Regions from separate parts of the Homo sapiens genome. Here region 1 is linked to region 2. Evidence: fine-mapped expression QTL. A gene starts in region 2. The other region holds a variant in brackets. All regions are shown on one strand. Distances are from middle to middle.

Region 1 (9,538 bases), 550 kb before region 2:
AAAAAGAAAAAACAAAAACAAAAAATACCATATTCAACAGGTTACAGGAAGAGCTATAGATACTCATGAAGGGGGTCCTAATGCAAGTATACTGAATAAACATGTGTGTTGTATATGACCCATGTTCACTTTGGGGTGGAGACTTAACATTGAAATACATTACAGGCCGGGTGCGGTGGCTCACGCCTATAATCTCAGCACTTTGGGAAGCCGAGGTGGGTGGCTCACGAGGTCAGAAGATCAAGACCATCCTGGCCAACACAGTAAAACCCCGTCTCTACTAAAAATACAAAAATTAGCTGGGCGTGGTGGCGTATGCCTGTAGTCCCAGCTACTCAGGAGGGTGAGGAAGGAGAATCACTTGAAACCGGGAAGCGGAGGTTGCAGTGAGCCAAGATCGCACCACTGCACTCCAGCCTGGGCTACAGAGGGAGACTCCATCTCAAAAAAAAAAAAAAAAAAGAAAAGAAATACAATTAGCACCATATGTCAAAATGAAGGATACAAAAGCACTCAGTGCACAGGTTCCATAAACCAACTGAAGCCAGTCCCTGGTCAGTGGTCTCTTATTAGGAAAAAGTCACCAAAATCCATCTCTTGTGCAATCAAAGCTATAGTTATGGCTTGTGGGGTCAGTGTCTGGTGATGGATGAACTGCAATTGTTTCTATATTGCTTATCTCAAGGCCAGTGCTTGTTTAGCTGCTGGAGAAAAAGAAAAACCTTGCAGCAGTTAGAACATAGTTTATTCTTTGGTGAACGGCTTAACTCTTGCCTGGCATGGCCTTAATGTCTTGTTTATACTTTGGTATCTTATTGCTACAAAGGGTTCATTCTCTCAGTCTTATGATCTCTATTTTTTTCTTTCTTTTTTGAGACAGAGTCTCATTCTGTCACCCAGGCTGGAGTGCAGTGGCAGGATCTCTGCTCACTGCAACCTCCATCTCCCAGGTTCAAGCAATTCTCCTGCCTCGGCCTCCCGAGTAGCTGGAACTGCAGGCACATGCCAACATCGCTAATTTTTGACAGAGTCTCATTCTGTCACCCAGGCTGAAGTGCAGTGGCGTGATCTTGGCTCACTGCAACCTCAGCCTCCTGGATTCAAGCAATTCTCCTGCCTCAGCCTTCCAAGTAGCTGGGACGCCACACGCCACCATGCCCTGGCTCAAGTGATCCTTCTACCTCAGGCTCCTGAGTAGCTGGGAACACAGGTGCACACCATCATACCCAGCTAACTTTTATATTTTTTGTAGAGACAGGATTTCACTATGTGGCCCAGGCTGGTCTCAAACTCCAGGCTCAAGTGAGCCTCCTGCCTTGGCCTCCCAAAGTGCTGGGACTACAGATGTGAGCCACCGCCCCTGGACGTGATCTCTTTTTTTTTTTTTTTTGAGATGGAGTCTCGCTCTGTTGCCAGGCTGGAGTGCAGTGGCATGATCTTGGCTCACTGCAACATCCGCCTCCTGGGTTCAAGCGATTCTCCTGCCTCAGGCTCCCAAGTAGCTGGGACTAAGGCATGTGCCACCACACCCAGCTAATTTTTGTAGTTTTAGTAGAGATGGGATTTCACCATGTTGGCCAGGATGGTCTCGATCTCTTGACCTCGTGATCTGCCAAAGTGCTGGGATTACAGGCATGAGCTACCACGCCCGACCTTTTTTATTTTTGAGACCGAGTTTCGCTCTTGTTGCCCAGGTTGGAGTGCAATGGCGCAATCTTATCAGCAACCTCTGCCTCCCGGGTTCAAGCGATGCTCATGCCTCAGTCTCCCGAGTAGCTGGGACTACAGGCATGTGCCATCACGCCTAGCTAATTTTGTATTTTTAGTAGAGATGGGGTTTCTCCATGTTAGTCAGGCTGGTCTCAAACTCCCAACCTCAGGTGATCCACCCACCTTGGCCTCCCAAAGTGCTGGGATTACAGGTGTGAGCCACCGCACCCGGCCTGCCTGCTTCCTTTCCTTCCTTCCTTCCTTCCCTCCCTCCTTCCTTTCCTTCCTTCCTTCCTCCCTTCCTTTCTCTCTCTTTCTTTTTTTTTTTTGAGAGGGTCTGGCTTTCTGTCACTCAGGCTGGAATGCAGTGGTGTGATCATGGCTCACTGCAGCCTCAACCTTCCAGCTCAAGCCATCTTCCCACTCCAGCCTCCTGAGTAGCTGGAACTATATAGGCATGCACCATCACACCCAGCTAATTTTTAAAAACATTTTTCTAGAGATGGGGTCTCACTATATTCCCCAGTCTGGTCTTGAACTCCTAGGCTCAAGTGATCCTCCCACCTCAGCCTCCCAAATGAAATATTCCTAAACCCAGTCACCTAGCCTCCCTACCTATACCCACTGCTACCCTGGGCTAAGAAGGGAAGGCCATTGAAGTAGGAGACAACTAGGAAGTCTGATGCTGGTTGGGAACGATGCGTTTCAAGGGGTTGGTCAAAACAGGAAATATTACTAAAAGGTTAAGTGCAAGCAGTGATCATTGCAATAATTTTGCAACAGTGTTTGGTGACTCATTGATTCTCTGGAATTTACTTGGTATATAGAGTGAGGTAAGGTCAAAATATCCTCTCTCCCCCTAAAAGGCAAACTAAATTTTGTAACACCGTTTCTTGATGAGGCCCTGTTTCCCTACCCATCTCTGTTGTTCCCTCTATCATCCCATAGATTCTCAAACTTGTACCAGGTCCATGCAGGCTGTGTTCTGTAGGGAGGGCTCTGGCACTCAACTTACCCTTCTTACTCTGTTTGATACATTCACCTATTTATTCTTCTAGATGTTTCTTTTTATTTTTTAAATTTACTTTTAATTTTTTTAAATAGAGATGGGATTTTGCCACATTACCCAGCTTGGTCTCGAACTCCTGGGCTCAAGTGATTCTCCTGCCTTGGTCTCACAAAGTGCTGGGATTACAGGCATGAGCCACTGCACGCAGCTTTTTTTTTTTTTTTTTTTTTGAGACGGAGTTTGCTCTTGTTGCTCAGGTTGGATGGAGTGCAGTGGTGTGATCTAGGCTCACTGCAACCTCCACCTCCTGGTTCAAGCAAGTCTCATGCCTCAGCCTCCCAAGTAGCTGGGATTACAGGGGCCTGTCTCCATGCACAGATAGTTTTTGTATTTTTAGTAGAGACAAGGTTTCACCATCTTGACCAGGCTGGTCTCGAACTCCTGACCTCAGGTGATCCGCCCACCTCAGCCTCCCAAAGTCCTGGGATTACAGGCGTGAGCCACCACGCCTGCCTGTTCTATTCATTATTGAAAGTGGGGGGTTGAAATATGAACTATAATTGTAGAGCTGACTACTTTCAATTCTGATAATTTTTGTTTCATTATTTTTGGGGCTCCGTTAGGCACATAAATGTTTCTAATTGTCATATTGCCTTGTTTTGAAACTTTTATTAGGTGGGTGGATCACCTCAGGTCAGGAGTTCAAGACCAGCCTGACCAACATGGATAAACCCCGTCTCTACTAAAAATACAAAATTAGTAGGGCATGGTGGCGCATGCCTGTAATCCCAGCTACTCAGGAGGCTGAGGCAGGAGAATTGCTTGAACCCGGGAGGCAGAGGCTGTGGTGAGCCAAGATCATGCCATTGCACTCCAGCCTGGGCAACAAGAGCGAAACTCTGTCTCAAAAAAAAAAAAAGGCTGGGCGCAGTGGCTTACGCCTGTAATCCCAGCACTTTGGGAGGCCAAGGCAGGAAGATCACGAGGTCAGGAGACAGAGACCATCCTGGCTAACACAGTGAAACCCCGTCTCTACTAAAAATACAAAAAAAATGCCGGGCGCGGTGGCTCACGCCTGTAATCCCAGCACTTTGGGAGGCCGAGGCGGGCGGATCACGAGGTCAGGAGATCGAGACCATCCCGGCTAAAACGGTGAAACCCCGTCTCTACTAAAAATACAAAAAATTAGCCGGGCGTAGTGGCGGGCGCCTGTAGTCCCAGCTACTTGGGAGGCTGAGGCAGGAGAATGGCGTGAACCCGGGAGGCAGAGCTTGCAGTGAGCCGAGATCCCGCCACTGCACTCCAGCCTGGGCGACAGAGCGAGACTCCGTCTCAAAAAAAAAAAAAAAAAAAAAAAAGTACAAAAAAAATTAGCTGGGTATGGTGGCAGACACCTGTAGTCCCGGCTACTCAGGAAGCCGAGGCTGGAGAATGGCATGAACCCAGGAGGCAGAGGTTGCAGTGAGCCGAGATTGCGCCACTGCACTCCTGCCTAGGCGACAAAGTGAGACTCCGTCTCAAAAAAAAAAAGCAATTTTTATCAATAGATAACGTCCTTCTTTGTCTCTTGTAATCTTTTTGATTTAGAGGCTACTATACCTGACAATAATAAAGCCACCTTGACTCTCTTCTGGTTGCTATTTGCATGAAGTATTTTTTTTTCTTTTTCTTTTTCTTTTTTTCTTTCTTGAAACAGAGTCTCACTCTGTTGCCCCAGGCTAGAGTGCAGTGGTGTGATCATGACTCACTGCAGCTTTGACCTTCCTGAGATCAGGTGATCCTCCCACCTCAGCCTCCGGGGTAGCTGGGACTAAAGGTGCACACCACCATGCCCAGCTAATTTTTTGTGTTTTTTGTAGAAATGGGGTTTTGCCTTGTTGCCCAGGCTGGTCTCAAACTCTTTAAGCAATCCACCTGCCTCAGCCTCCCAAAGTGCTGGGATTACAGGTGTAAGCCACCATGCCAGGCCATAAAATATTTCTTCCATCCTTTTACTTCTGGTGTTTTTATGTTCTTATATCTGAAGTGAGTCTCTGATAGACAACATATAGATTAACCTTTTTTAAAAAACCAATCTGAAAATTCATTTATTAATAGGAGAGTTTAATCTATTTATATTTAATGAGATTACTGACAAATGATTTGCTTTCAGGTTCAGAATTTGTTTGGTCCCTTTAAAATTTTTCTCTGTATTAATTTTTTTTTTTTTTTTTTTTTTGAGACAGAGTCTTGCTCTTTCACCCAGGCCACAGTGCAGTGGCACTCTTGGCTCGCTGCAAGCTCTGCCTCCCCAGTTCATGCCATTCTCCTGCCTCAGCCTCCCGAGTAGCTGGGACTACAGGTGCCCACCACTGTGCCCGGCTAATTTTTTGTATTTTTAGTAGAGATGGGGTTTCACTGTGTTAGCCAGGATGGTCTTGATCTCCTGACCTCGTGATCCACCCACCTAGGCCTCCCAAAGTGCTGGGATTACAGGCATGAGCCACCGCGCCCGGCCCTCTTTATTAGTATTCTTTATGTTCAGACATAATTTTCCTAATTTCCTTTAGTTCTTTGTCCATGGCTTCCCTTAGTTCATTGAACATACTAAGACAGTTGATTTATTGTTTTTGATTAATAATTCCAATGCCTGGGCTTCCTGAGGGATACTTCCCATCACAATCTCTTTTTCAGCCAGGTGCAGTGGCTCATGCCTATGATCTCAGAACTTTGGGAGGCTGAGGTGGGAGAGTCATTTGAGTTCAGGAGTTTGAGACCAGGGCAACATAGTGAGACCCTGTCTCTCTTTTGACTCCAGCCCACTTCCCCTCACTTGGAGGACATCAGAGAGGCTGTGGCATTTTCGGGGTCCAGCCAAAGGGAAGGTGGGTTGAAGATGGTCCCAGGTTGGGTTCTCTAGGAATCCAACTCCAAGAGGAAGATCAGAGCACAAGATATTTACAAGAGTCCCTTGAGA[T/C]GAGCACCTCAGGGAAGGAGGGAAAGGGTTGGGCAAGGAAGAAGTCTGGCTATAGGGGCTCTGCCACAGCCAGAGTGGACCTGTCTGCTGGCCGTCCCCTGAGTGGCTGGCAGCAGCTGGCCTTTGTGTGGCATATCTCTGAGTCTACCACAGGGACACACTGGGTGTTATAAGTAAAATGTTTATTCAGAAACAGAATGCTGTTCTTCAGTACCGCAAGGAAAAATTAGCATTGAGACAAAAAGTTTTCTCAGCAAGGCAAATTTACTTTCTGCAGAAAGGGTGCTCCTTGCAGATGAAACAATGGTGAGAGCACACTTGAACAAAGGAGGGAAGCAATTTTTATTCTTTATGCAGCTTGTCCTTGCTACTGTGTCCTGCCTCCATTGGCTGGAGACGGACTGCACAATCTAAGCTAAACTTGACCGGCTAATAACTTAAAATTTTCTTAAATAGGTAAAGGCAAGGGAGAACAAAGGAAAAGAGGAAATTGCTTACGAAAGGACTTAGAAGGACTTAGAAAAGTAATAACATTTCTTTTTTTCTTTTTTTTCTTTTTTGAGATGGAGTCTTGCTCTGTCGCCCAGGCTGGAGTGCAATGGCATGATCTCGGCTCACTGCAAGCTCTGCCATGGGTTCACGCCATTCTTCTGCCTCAGCTTCCGGAGTAGCTGGGACTACAGGCACCCACCACCATGCCTGGCTAATCTTTTTTGCATTTTTGGTAGAGGCGGGGTTTCACTGTGTTAACCAGGATGGTCTTGATCTCCTGACCTCATGATCTGCCCGCCTCAGCCTCCCAAAGTGCTGGGATAACAGGCGTGAGTCACTGCACCCAGCCAAAAGTAATAACATTTCGAAATAAGGAAGGCACATAGGCTGCAAGCTGGAATGTGCCTGTGAGCATGTCCAGCACAAATATTTTGGTTAAAGTACAAGGACACAGAATGTACTTATTTCTTTATATCTAACAGCTACATAAGATAGGGCTTAACAAAGAGTTATTAGCACAAAGTGAGGAGGCTTAAAGGAAGTTAGTCTTTAAAAGAAACTATTATTTGTAACACTTATAATTTATTCTTTAACAAGAAGGGAAACTTTGAAGAGGAACTTTTTTTTTTTTACTTTCTACACCAGGTTAAGAGGGACATATTTATGTGGTTTGCTCCACCCTTGTGTAAAGTTAGTTTATTGGTCTTGTTCTAGAATAAACTAGGAATGTGGCTCGTAGGAAAATCCTGCTGGGTAAGGACAGAAGTGCAAAGTCCTATTGCCTTAAGGACATGCCCCACGGCACCCAGTGCTGGGAAAACTGTGAGCCATGGAAGGAAAACAAGGTTTGAAATGCGTGGAGCCAGAACCTCGTCTGTGGAAAATTCTTCCAAATTTCATAGTTCCTATATGAAAGAAGGCTGATGACAGTTTCTCAAATTTTACAACAATCCAGAACATTTGTATGGCACCGTCAACAACAGATTAGGAAGTTTAACTTTCCTAAACTACCAATAATTAAAACACAAATTTCAACCATGTTAGGAGGAAGACTGAAGTATCTTTTCTCTGTATGGAAAATATCTCCCCCAAAAATCACAAAATCCTTGTCCTCTGTAGAGGCCTTCAGAGTAAGAAGCCAGACCATGTAGGGGACCAAGGTATTAGAAATATGTCAGGAAGTTGCCACAAGTTATGTTATTTTTCTGGATTTAGTATTGTAGTATTTGTCAATTTAAAAAAAAAGTTTTCAAAAAAAAGTATCATCATTTCTTTTCTCATTATTTTAATTCACTTCCATTTTTGAATTCATAACGTTGTTGCCTTTTTCTAAAGCAGGAACCTGGGACAGGCACTGTGGCTCATACCTGTCATCCCAGCACTTTGAGAGGCAGAGGCAAGAGGATCAGTTGAAGCCAGCCTGGGCAAGATAGACTCCATCTCTACAAATATATATATATTTTTTAATTAGCTGGGTATGGTGATGTATGCCTATAGTCTCAGCTACTTGGGAGGCCAAGGCAGGAGGATTGCTTGAGTTCGTCAAAAAAACAAAAAGAAACAATTTTTAAAAAGGGGAAAAAGAAAGAGAAAGGGATTAAAGTGAGGGTCCCTTCTTTTCCAGGGTCCTTAGAGCAAGGGCGGCTGAGGCACTAGAGCATGTTTGAGACTGCCATAGAAACAAAGGCAGCTAGGGCGGCCTGCCTGACCCCAGGTTGGGGCTGCTGGAGCCAAGAATCTGGGGAGGGGCTGTTATTGGAGACAGAGCAGTGGCCTCTCAAGGGAGGGCCTTGCAGGGCCTGGGAAGAAGGAAGCCAGAGCCAGCTGCTGTTTGATGGCAGGACTAAAGTCACCTCCCTGAGGTGGTGACAAGGATGGGTGAAGCCAAAGGGTGTGCGACTCCACAGTGATGGGGGCTTGGGGCTCTCAGTCCCCCATCAGAGATCCTCAGCATCTGGTTCCAGCTTCACCACTGCCCCCACCCCTCTTCTCAGCTGACCAGGTCCCTCCTCAGCTCACCCTGTGCACTGGAGAGGCCCAGTACCCTCACTCAGCACTTGAGGCCCTTTATCATGTGCACTGCCCACCTTGCCCATGTGCAGAGAGTACCAAACACAGCACGTGGCTTTTGCTCAGAACCAGACCGCCACCTGGATTTCCCTTCCTCACACCCATTTCCCCTCAGGGCTCAGCCAGGTTGTTGGCTCCTCTGGGCAACCCTTCCTGAGCCACCCAAGCCTGTCCCGTTGGTAAGTCCTCTCCCATCACACAGGGAGTCCCCAGGTACTGGTCAGGCCAGAGGAGCAGTTTTTGTTTGTTTTGAGACAAGTTCTTGCTCTGTCACCCAGGCTGGAGTACAGTGGCACAATCTTGGCTCACTGCAACCACTGCCTGCCAGGCTCAAGCCATCCTCCCACCTCAGCTTCCTGAGTAGTTGGTACTACAGGCACACACCACTATGTGTGTGCTCAGCTAATTTTTGTTTGTTTGTTTGTATTTTTCGTAGGGATGGGGTTGCCATGTTGCCCAGGCTGGTCTCGAACTCTTGAGCTCAAATGATCCTCCCACCTCGGCCTCTCAAAGCGCTGGGATTACGGGTGTGAGCCACCACGCCCAGCCCAGAGGAGCAGTTGTGTCTCCAGGAGGGATCCTTAGGGAGGAAAGGTCAGTTGGTGGGGGCAATGGAGCAGTGTGAGCCAGCCTATGCCCCACCTGCCCGCCCGTCCTGGACACCAAGTCAGCTGACTCTAAAAGCTGAAAAGGGACACACGGTCCAGACAGGCCTGGAAAGAGCAGACCTGGCCCAGGACCTCAGGCTGTCAGGCAAAGAGAGGCACATGTTCGGTCACCCACTCTGGGTGGAAGTCCCCTTTATTTGGATTTGCCGCTGGGTGGCTAGATGACGTAGGTGGCCTTCGATGTGGACCAGGAGGGCATCCAGCATGTGCAGGACCCCACGGAGCAGGGTGTGGTCTGAGATTGGGGCCCGCCGTTTCCAGGGTCCGCAGGGCTCAGTGGTCACCTGCGGATGCTGAGACCAGGACCAAGAGGCAGGAGTGAGAATGGTGGGCAGAGAGGGAGATGTGACAAGGGGCAGTGATGGAGCTGGGGAGCAGGGAGTAGGGTGTGGGGCAGTGCCCAGATGGGATGGGAGGGAGACTCAGGGTGATAGAGGATCACCGAGGGTCTGTTGTGGGCTACAGTGGTCATGGGGCCCACAGGGGCTGGATGAGAGCAGGGGTACTAAAGGGGAGAGTTGGGGGCAGGGTGCTGGCTGTGGGTGGTGGACATGGGTTCCACGAAGGTGTGTGGACACAGGGACAATGGGCTGTGAGCTGGGGGTGGGGGTGTGGGAGGTCCACAGGCCAGTG
Region 2 (9,538 bases):
GGCTCTGGCTCTGGCCCCAGCCAACAACCAGGATGCTGATGCAGCCAGATCGGGAAGGGATATCTGGCACTCCCTGGGAAACTGTTCTAGGAGCCTGGACTAGGAGGGGCAGCATCTGACTAGAGATCCTAGGAATACCCACCCCTCTCCACCCCACCCCACAGGGAACCTTGATTTCTTTTTTTCTTTTCTTTTTTTTTTTTTTTTTTTTTTTTTTTGAGACAGAGTCTCACTCTGTCGCCCAGCCTGGAGTGCAGTGGCGAGATCTTGGCTCACTGCAAACTCTGCTTCCCAGGTTCAAGTGATCTTCCAGCCTCAACCTCCCAAGTAGCTGGGACTTTAGGTGTGTGCCACCACACCTGGCTGTTTTGTATTTTTAGTACAGATGAGATTTCACCATGTTGGCCAGGCTGGTCTCAAACTCCTGACCTCAACTGACCCACCTGCCTTGGACTCCCAAAGTGCTGGGATTACAGGCGTGAGCCCCAAGCTGGGCTGCCCTTGAGGAGCTGAGTGTGGCTCTCAGGTCATTCCCCATATTCACATCATGAATGAAAGAGTTGTCAGAGGCAAGTAGCATGTAAGGTAGTGGGGCGACAGCACAGCTGGGAGCAAGGTCCCAGAGCTTGGGAAACCAAGGGAGGACACACCCAGGGGAAGCATGCCACAAGATGCAGAAGGGGCAGGAGGGCACCAAGAAGCACAGAGCTTCTCCACAGGTCCACCACCCAGGGCAGCTGGCAGCTTGTGGGGCCCAAACCCAGAAACAGAAAACATCTGATTCTCACTGAAATGATGCCCCTACCCCAGGGAGGGGGAATGTGTGCCCCTCCCTGCCAACCCCAGGCACTGCCATTCAGCCTGGGCAGCCAGTGATGGACTACAGATGGGCAGGACAGTTACCTCCTTCAGGTCCCAGGGCCCAGCCCCCTCTCTAAAGCAGGAAGGGTGACAATGTATTTTAACATATGGACCATGTTGGAGGGCATGATGAGGCTGGACCTGGGAGTAGAGAGAGCACTTAAGATTCATACAGAAAGCACTGCTGATGAGGCAGTCATGGAAAACCTCACCCAACCAAGGAGAAAATTATTTGGTCACTGAGGGCAAGCTCTGTGGTCCTGACTCAACCACCAGTACCTTGCCACCAATCGAAGTTGAGGATAGTTACTCTCTGCCACGAGAGCAGAGTGGGGAGAAGCACCTCAACCCCTTTGGGCCTGGACCCACACCAGAAAAGCCCAGGCTAAGCCCCAAGATTTTAGCCAGGCTGTCTGTTTGGTCCCTAGGGAAGTACCACAAAGGCTCCATTCCAGGACCTAAAAACCCACTAGCTGCAAGGTTCCCCATGGAACCTACTGTCCTGCATGGGGCCTACTGTCCTGAATGGGGCCTGTCTGGATCACAAACCAGAGCAGCCTCAAAGGGAAGTGTCTTACTTCACAGTGGCTCTGCTTCTGCATTCAGGGGATGCCTCTCAGACAACCACAGAAGCCAATTTCCCCTCATCTCTCCAAAGGGGCCCAGGAGCTGCCTCCTCCCACAACCCCCGGAAATAGGCAGGCCTATTTCTGGGACCACTTTCCCTATATCTTCAAGCTGGCCTGCCAGCAGCCACACACACACAGAAGACCATGGAGGGTGGGCAGGGAGACTGGAAGGTGGAAAGGTATAAAACGTGATAGATGGAACAGTAGACATACAACTTGAATAACAAGTCACAGTGCATCGCGCCATGAAAACACCCCTCCCGCCCACCCACCCCACCGTACCCCACCCACTCTGGTTTCTGAAAGGAGGCTGGTGGTCACCAGGGCCCTAGAGAGGCACCGGGAGTCCTCAAGATTGTGGAGTCCACGGACATAGCACACTGTGCCACTAGCCACACAGACAGCTGGGCTTAGTTTCCCCAAACATTGCCGTGTGAAGGAATCAGACTGCTGAATATGGCAGCAATGGCTGGAGCCGTATTACAGGTGACAGGTTCACGCGGAGGATCCGCTGAGCCCGCTGCCGCACCTCATCATCCGAGGACCGCCTATCTACCTTTATGGCACGGAACTTCAGCAGCTTTGCTGTTCCAGGCCCTAGCCATGCCTTAGGAGATCGGGGCCCAAGCCGTGTTCTCTTCTTGGGAGGAAGATCTTTTGCCTCCTCAGCCCTTTTCCTCTTCTGCCCAACAGTCTCAGGGCGGTTTTTCTGGCCCTTCCTTGTAGTTCTGGCCTTAGCAGATCCCTTTGGCCTGCCTCTGCCCCTGGGCTGGGTCCGAGCCACCTTGGCCTTGGCCCGTACTGCCTTGGCTTTAGCCTTGGCCTTGGCCCATGCTGCCATGACTTTGGCCTTGGCCTTGACCTGTGCTGCCTTAGCTTTGGCCTTAGCCTTGACCTGTGCTGCCTTGGCCTTGGCCCGGGCCTTAGCAGCCTTGGCCTGTGTTCGAGCCACCTTGGCTTGGGCACGAGCAGCTTTGGCCAGTGTTCGAGCTACCTTGGCCTGGGCTGTTTTGGTGCCCAGGGCAGAGCCCCCTTTCATTCGCCGGACACTGGGGGACCCAGTGGCTCTGTTGGTTTTGCTCTGGTGCCCAGAGCCTCGTCGGGGTCCAGCCCCAGGGCCTTTGCGAGTCAGACACTTGGGGCCCTTGCTTGTGGTTTTTCTGGGAGCTTTGGGCCGAGGGTTCCCCGGACCCTTCCCTGAACTTTTCCGCAGTTTCAGAGGAGAGTCTGCAAGTGAGAGCTGCAGTGACTGTGCCTTGTGCTTGGCACCCAAGCAGGGCATGGGAGTCTTAAGTGGAACCAGGGCCTCAAGGACAACAGAGAGCCGCATGGCAGGGTAGACACCTGGATAAAGGTGGGTGGGGAAGCCCACTGCTGCACCCCGGGCATGGCTGGCACTTGATTGCTTCAGAGAGCTCAGCAGCAGGTTGGTGGTAGCATGCTTGGCAAGGGCTGGTGTGGATGCTTTGGCCAGTCTGCCAGATAGCGGCATGGGAAGCAGTGTGGCCCGACCTGCAGGCAACCGCATGGCAGTTCGGGGAGCACTGGCTGGAGGTGATGTGGCAGTTGGGTTAGGGGCACGAGCTTGCAGTTTCGTCTGGCTTGGGGGATTAGCTGTGCATGAACTATAGCCATAGACATCACCACTGCGCAGGATGGTAGGTTGGAAGCCATCATCTCGCAGGCCCTGCAGGAAGGCCACAAGCTGGGCCTCTGTGGCACTGAGATCCTGGCTCATTGGGTTAAAGACAAGCAGTGCCTCTTCCAGGGCCTTCTTCCCTGCCGTGGAGATGCGCGACCAGGAGTGCACAGCTTTTTCCTCCACATGCTGAACCACCACACTCATGGCATTAGGCACTGCAGATCTGCCTGGGTATCCGCAAACCAGCGCTTGGCACCTCCAAGACAAGAGGAAAAGAGTCAATAAGAATGGCACTAAGACAAGGGGCCAGAACACATAGACAAGTCAATCAGTGCCCCAATCTCCATGACACTGAGGAATCTGGCCAGAGTGAGACACTTCCTGGTGTAAAACCCTGGTCTCCTGACCCTCTACCATGCTGGGGTGGGAGGAGAGGCTAAGGATCAGGGAGTTTCTTCAAGATACATGCTCAGAAATACCTCAGAGCCATCCAACCTGCTGCCGGGTCCCTGAAAAGATTTGAGCCTGGTACATTTTAATTCAACTCTGTATTTTCTGAAGCCAGAAACCTAGAATTACTCAGCTCTGGGAATACAGGCAATATCCCTGTCCTCAAGGAACCTAGGTTAGAAGGCCAGAAAAAGACACTGTTAAGATTCTTGGGAGTGAATGCTGGCATTCAGCTCAGTTTGCCAATGGGTCAGGAAAGGATTCCTGGGAGAGACAACACCTAGCTAGGATATGAGTGATGAATGAAAAATGATTAGATGGAAATGGAACAAAAAGGGGAATAGCTAATGCAATGGCTCCAAAGTGAGAAAGGGTTAAGGCATACTTGGTGTGGGATCTGGGATCTAGGTGAAAAAACAGGCGAGGATAGAGCAACAAAGAACCCTGAATGTTAGCCAAAGGGCCCAGACTTACACCCACTGTCCATGCCCATCTGTTTCTCCAGCTGCTGCTGTTCATGTGTGGAGCTGGAGTGGGGTGGGGGAATCTCCCTGCCCACCAGAAGTTCTGTTTTCAGTCTCTAGACAGGGTACTCAGCAACCCATTTTCTAGCTCCAGAGGCATGGAGACCTAATCAAGAGTCGGACTTTTCTTCAACAGAAACTAAAAAGCTGATGAGTAGCAGGTGCCAATGACATCTCTCTAGGCAACCAGGCAGACCAGGGACCAGGAAGCCAGACCAAGATCCCAAAGTTTAAGGACAATGGGAGCCAAAGGCTGCAAGTAGGATGGTGAGTCAAGGGGACATTAGCGGTATGCACTGTCCTACCTAAGACTTGGAGGGCCACAGACCTCAGTACAGCCCAGATGGAGGTGACTGAGAACACCTAACTACTCCCAGACTTCTTTAAAGAAGCTGTGGACATCAATCATAACTAACATCTAATACCCAACCCAACACTGAGGGTTCCCAGAAGCAAGAGGCAGCTCCCCAGCTGCACCAGAGCATTAAAAGATCAGCCAGGATCAGGCAGGTCCCTCGGGCCATGAGGCCCGTCTGTGTAGTTTCTTCCCACCGCTCTAATGCAGCAGATGAAGTCTTCAGAATACCCTGGAGGAAATGCCCTAGGGCTCTTTGTTTGGAAACATTCTTGGATCCTCAGGTGTCTTGGGCACTTCCCCTCCCCAGAGACCGTTCTCCAAGCACAATCCTTGCACATGACTTTAGTTCTTTATTAATGTTTTTTGAAGGGATGTAGTTCCCAGAGCTGTGAACTGTAGAAGAGAGAGGGACCTATTTCCCACCCTCACACGCGCCCCAGCGCAAATATTTGGGGTGACCTGGGGGCTCTTCCACCCAGGTTAGGCTGGGCTCTTGGGAGGGGTTTTCTGGGCTTTCGAGAAGCTTCGGAAACAGAGGCTCCTGCCCGGCCTCCGACTTCCCTTCACACGTGCCCCCGGGGAAGGCAGGAGAAGTTGACGGAAGATAGGGCGTGAGAGAGGCGCCACACAGGCAGACCGGGGGAGGGGGCAGATCGGGGCCCTCAGGCTGGGAATGCACGTCCTTAGGGCCCAAGCCGTGAGGCGGGGGTCACTGAGGCAGCGAAATGTACAGGGTGAACGGTGCTAGCCCTACCGGGACCGCACAGCCCCAGGGTGGGGTCGCTGGGCGCGGGGTGGGGGTGGGGTGGGGGGTCTCGGCCAGGCCGGCGGAGGACGCGGGTCCGGGAAGAGTTGGCCGCTTGCCCGTCCGCCCTGCCGCCTCGCGGGCCGCCCCTCCGCGGCGCGGCTAGGCCCGCGGCTCCAACCTACCGGCGCCGCCGCGGGGACCCAAGACGCGCCTCTGCGCCGCCTCCGCTGCTCCAACATGGCCGCCCGCTGCGCGCCGGAAGTGCACTGCGCTTCCGCTTCCGGGACCCAGCCCGCCCTACCGACCCTTGACCCCTGAGACCCCATTTCCCCACAAAGTCTGGGGGCGGAGCAGATTGGGTACCAAGGAGGACTGCCTGGAGGTGGTGGCCGCGGTGACTGCTCCAAACCCGTTCGGCCCTGTGCAGAAGTCTGAAGAACAGAGGTGCCCTCTGACGCGGCCCCAGGCAAGGACTCACTAGAGCCCGGCCAAGACTGGATTAGGGGTCATCTGACACCTTTTCTGAGGGGAGCTAGTGGTGCATTGACATCTGGGAGGGGCTCCTGACAAGGTTCAGGCCATCTTCCACCCTCTGATCTATCTTTAGCCACTGACAATGCCCACTTCAGTCCCAGACACCTGACCAGAGGGTGAAAGAGGAGTGCCTCCTGACAGGGAGTCTCAGGTGATCTCCTTTGTTTTGCAGTAAGGGTATCTTCTCCGAGGACAGCAGGCCTTCCTCTCTTCCTGAGAATAGGGCCTGTGGCACATGGCATGAAAGGCTGGTGTGCACGTGATCACAAGTGGTGCACGCAAGCCCAAGCGCACATGGAGTCTGGGGGCTCCAGTATACCACTGTGGGCCTGAGTATACTTGCTCAGGCAGGTGGGGGCAGGTATAGTCACTGGCCCAGCCTCAGCCCCTCAATGGAAGGAAGTCCTGCTTCCAGTCTTAACACTGCCCAGAACCCCTTTCCTTTTGCCTAGGAGTCTGGGACCTCAGTCTTTTTATCCATGCTCTTGGGCTAGTACGGGGTGGTGGTTATAGGACACAGGTCAAAATCAACCCTAGGGGTCTGTGACTTCAGTGAGAGGTCAGAGTGGTCTCCACAGCTCTGACCAAAGGTCCCATTAGTCAGAGGTTTGCAAGTCCAGGTTGGGAACCATCCTGGGAGCCCTGGTTTCATGGATGAGGTAGTGGGGGCATTTGCACTAGGGTCAGAGCCTGAGCCAGGAGGCAGAAATATTGCCACAACTCTTGGACTCTGACCCTTGCAGTGGTGCCTTATTTGGTAGTTGGGGTCAGGTGGAAGCCTATTGGCAATCACAGGAGGGTGGCGGGATGCTTCATTTAGGGACTGGGTACTAGCCCTTTTTCCTGCCCTTTTTCCAACCAGGATCCTCTGGTTGCTCTGTATTTTCCCTGCTTATACAGAGGGGTCCAGGCACTCCTAAAGACAAGTGCCTAGTCCACCCAGCAGTGCCATAGGCCTCATCTGGTGCCTCTTAGCTTCCCAGGGCCTCAGCACTAATGGTGAGGTCCTCGCTGCTTTTAAGTATAGCCAAGGTATCTAGCAGGAACTGCAAAATCTCCTGTTCCTCTGGGGTCAGTGCTTCTAGCCTTTTTTTCCTGGTGGAGAGAAAGCAAGAGTAGGGTCCCAGGGGCCAGGATCTCATGGGGTGCAGTCAGGAAGCCCCACCTTGGTGCCCCCAGTCCCCAGCTGTGGGTGAGTCCAGTCTCTGGCCGTCCATGGTTGAAGATTGACTGTTCACTTATTCAGGACCGATTCAACCAGTTACCTTCTGCAGCTTCTCCAAAGCCGGCAGTGTTGGCCTCCTGTGTGCAGGTGGGCCATGGCTGTGCAAACAGAAACCCCTTCCATGGAGAGCCAGAGCCCATCCTCCAGGGATAGCAACAGTACAGTTATATCCAGACCCCTCTCTGGTGATGTTCAGCTCAGAAGTTAGGGCAAATGGAAAACCAGGAAGGGTAGGTCCATCCTCCGGCTGTGCTGTGTCCCTTCCAGACATGAGAACTGGGGAAATGATAGAGATTAGGGATAAGGATCATGGGGGTACCTAGCTCCCTTTGGGGGTGGTAGGGCCGAACTTTTTGCCTCCTGGTGCCCAGTATGCCCTAGATGGAACTCTTTGGGAGCGCTCATCAGAGTGCAGTCTGACTTGACCTGGACTCTAGTGGCTGCTGAGCCTACAGGCACAACTGGGACCAGACAGGATGAGATGGGAGAGAACACAGGGTGATCCCAGGACCCAATCTTTGCTTTCCATTTGGCATCTTATATGGTTCTTTTTTTCCTTCTTCTTCCTTTTTTTTTTTTTTTTTTTTTTTTTTGAGACAGTCTCCTTTGTTGCCCAGGCTGGAGTGCAGTGGCGTGATCTCAGCTCACTGCAACCTCTGCCTCCCAGGTTCAAGCAATTCTCCTACCTCAGCCTCCAGAGTAGCTGGGACTACAGGCGCCTGCCATCACACCTGGCTAATTTTTGTATTTTTAGTAGAGGTGGGGTTTCACCATGTTGGCCAGGCTGGTCTCAAGCTCCTGACCTCAAATGATCCACCCACCTTGGCCTCCCAAAGTGCTGGGATTACAGGCGTGAGCCACTGTGCCTGGCCAATTTTTTGTATTTTTAGTCAAGCTGGGGTTTCACCATGTTGGCCAGGCTGGTCTTGAACTCCTGACCTCAGGTGATCTGCCCACCTCAGCCTCCCAAAGTGCTAGTATTACACGTGTGAGCCACCTGCCCCTCCAGCCTTATATGGTTCTCAGTGGATCCTGGACCCAGCTCTATCTGAGCAGAGAGATGTGATGGAGCTTTAGATGTGAATGAAGGCAGTGGCCTGGGAGGGACTGCCCCAAGAGGAAATATGTGTGCCAGGGAGAAAAGCCAGGGTTGAATCTTGAGGAGCCAATTCCTGGTGATGGAGAAGAAGCAGAGCCTGCAAAAGATTCTAGGCCAGGCGCGGTGACTCATGCCTGTAATTCCAGCACTTTGGGAGGCCAAGGCGGACGGATCCCGCAGTCAAGAGATGGAGACCATCCTGGCCAACATGGTGAAACCCCATGTCTACTAAAAATACAAAAAATTAGCTGGGCATGGTGGCACGTGCCTGTAGTCCCAGCTACTCGGGAGGCTGAGGCAGGAGAATCATTTGAAACCACCGGAAGGCGGAGGTGGCAGTAAGCTGAGATCACGCCACTGCACCCTAGCCTGGGCAACAAGAGTGAAACTCCGTTTCAAAAAAAAGATTTTGAGAGGTGGGCTGGGCGCGGTGGCTCATGCCTGTAATCCCAGCACTTTGGGAGGCTGAGGTGGGCGGATCACGAGGTCAGGAGATCGAGACCATCCTGGCTAACACGGTGAAACTCCATCTCTACTAGAAATACAAAAAAAAAAAAATTAGCCGGGCATGGTGGCGGGCCCCTGTAGTCCCAGCTACTCGGGAGGCTTAGACAGGAGAATGGCATGAACCTGGGAGGCGGAGCTTGCAGTGAGTGGAGATGGCACCACTGCACTCCAGCCTGAGTGACAGAGCAAGACTCCGTCTCAAAAAAAAAATAAATAGATAAAAAATAAAGATTCTCAGAGGCAGGACAAACAGCAGGAGGGAGTTGAGGTCACAAGGGGCAAAACTTTGAAGATGCTAGCAAGATTTAGTTAAGGACCACAGGCACATATAGTTTTAGCTATATGGTATTTCATGATGACTTTTCCAAGAACAATTTTTGGGGAGGAGTGGCAGCACATTGAGGTGACAAGTAACAAGGAGGTGGAGCCTGTGAGGACAGATGGCTTCAAGAGTTTGACTGGAGTGGAGGAAGGGGAGACTAGAGAGACTTGGGGTGTTGGGAGGTATCTAAAGGCAAGTGGCTTGTAAGTGTTTAATTGCTGGAAAGGAGGAGGAGGGAGCTTGGAAAGGGAACAGTAGCAAATGTGAAGGGGGCTGCAGAGCAGTGTGAGCCTCTTGGAAGCCTATTGGCAATCACAAGAGGGTGGAAACAGTGCCCCAAGTGAGGGCACTGAGGAGCAAGTCCAAGGTGAAGTGGGACAAGGAGGATTGAGGCCTTCAAGTCAGGGTCTGTGCAGTCTGTAACCAGCCTTGGCACCACCATTTCTGTGCAGGCCGACTGAATCCAACTGACAGTCCCTGAAAAGAGCAAAGGCTCTCTTCTCCGGTCATGCGGGAGGGTCTACCCATAGACTTCTGGGAAGGCCAGATGTGAGGGAGGCCAGGGAGTTAATAGGTAATGCCCCCAAACAGCTCTCAACCCATGACTAATGGAGATTTGAGAATGAGTATCTCAGCTCC

The links.
Region 1: its variant is fine-mapped to the expression of CCDC71 in whole blood (TOPMed, PIP above 0.99).

What each region holds. Positions count from the first base shown.
Region 1 is chr3:48,611,830-48,621,367 of GRCh38, forward strand. TMEM89 (transmembrane protein 89) reads right to left here. Exons shown (of 2, transcript NM_001008269.3): 2 at 8,930-9,198. The coding sequence ends at 9,013. Among named protein-coding and RNA genes, the nearest start is that of TMEM89, 5.2 kb to the right of the region's middle. RefSeq lists an enhancer at 1,917-2,416. The variant T/C (reference allele first, on the strand shown) is at 5,676.
Region 2 is chr3:49,160,873-49,170,410 of GRCh38, forward strand. It overlaps CCDC71 (coiled-coil domain containing 71), which reads right to left and starts at 5,459. Exons shown (of 2, transcript NM_022903.4): 1 at 5,395-5,459; 2 at 1,663-3,388. The coding sequence starts at 3,336. The coding sequence ends at 1,933. RefSeq lists enhancers at 2,485-2,985, 5,531-5,600, 5,621-5,740 and silencers at 5,221-5,280, 5,301-5,380.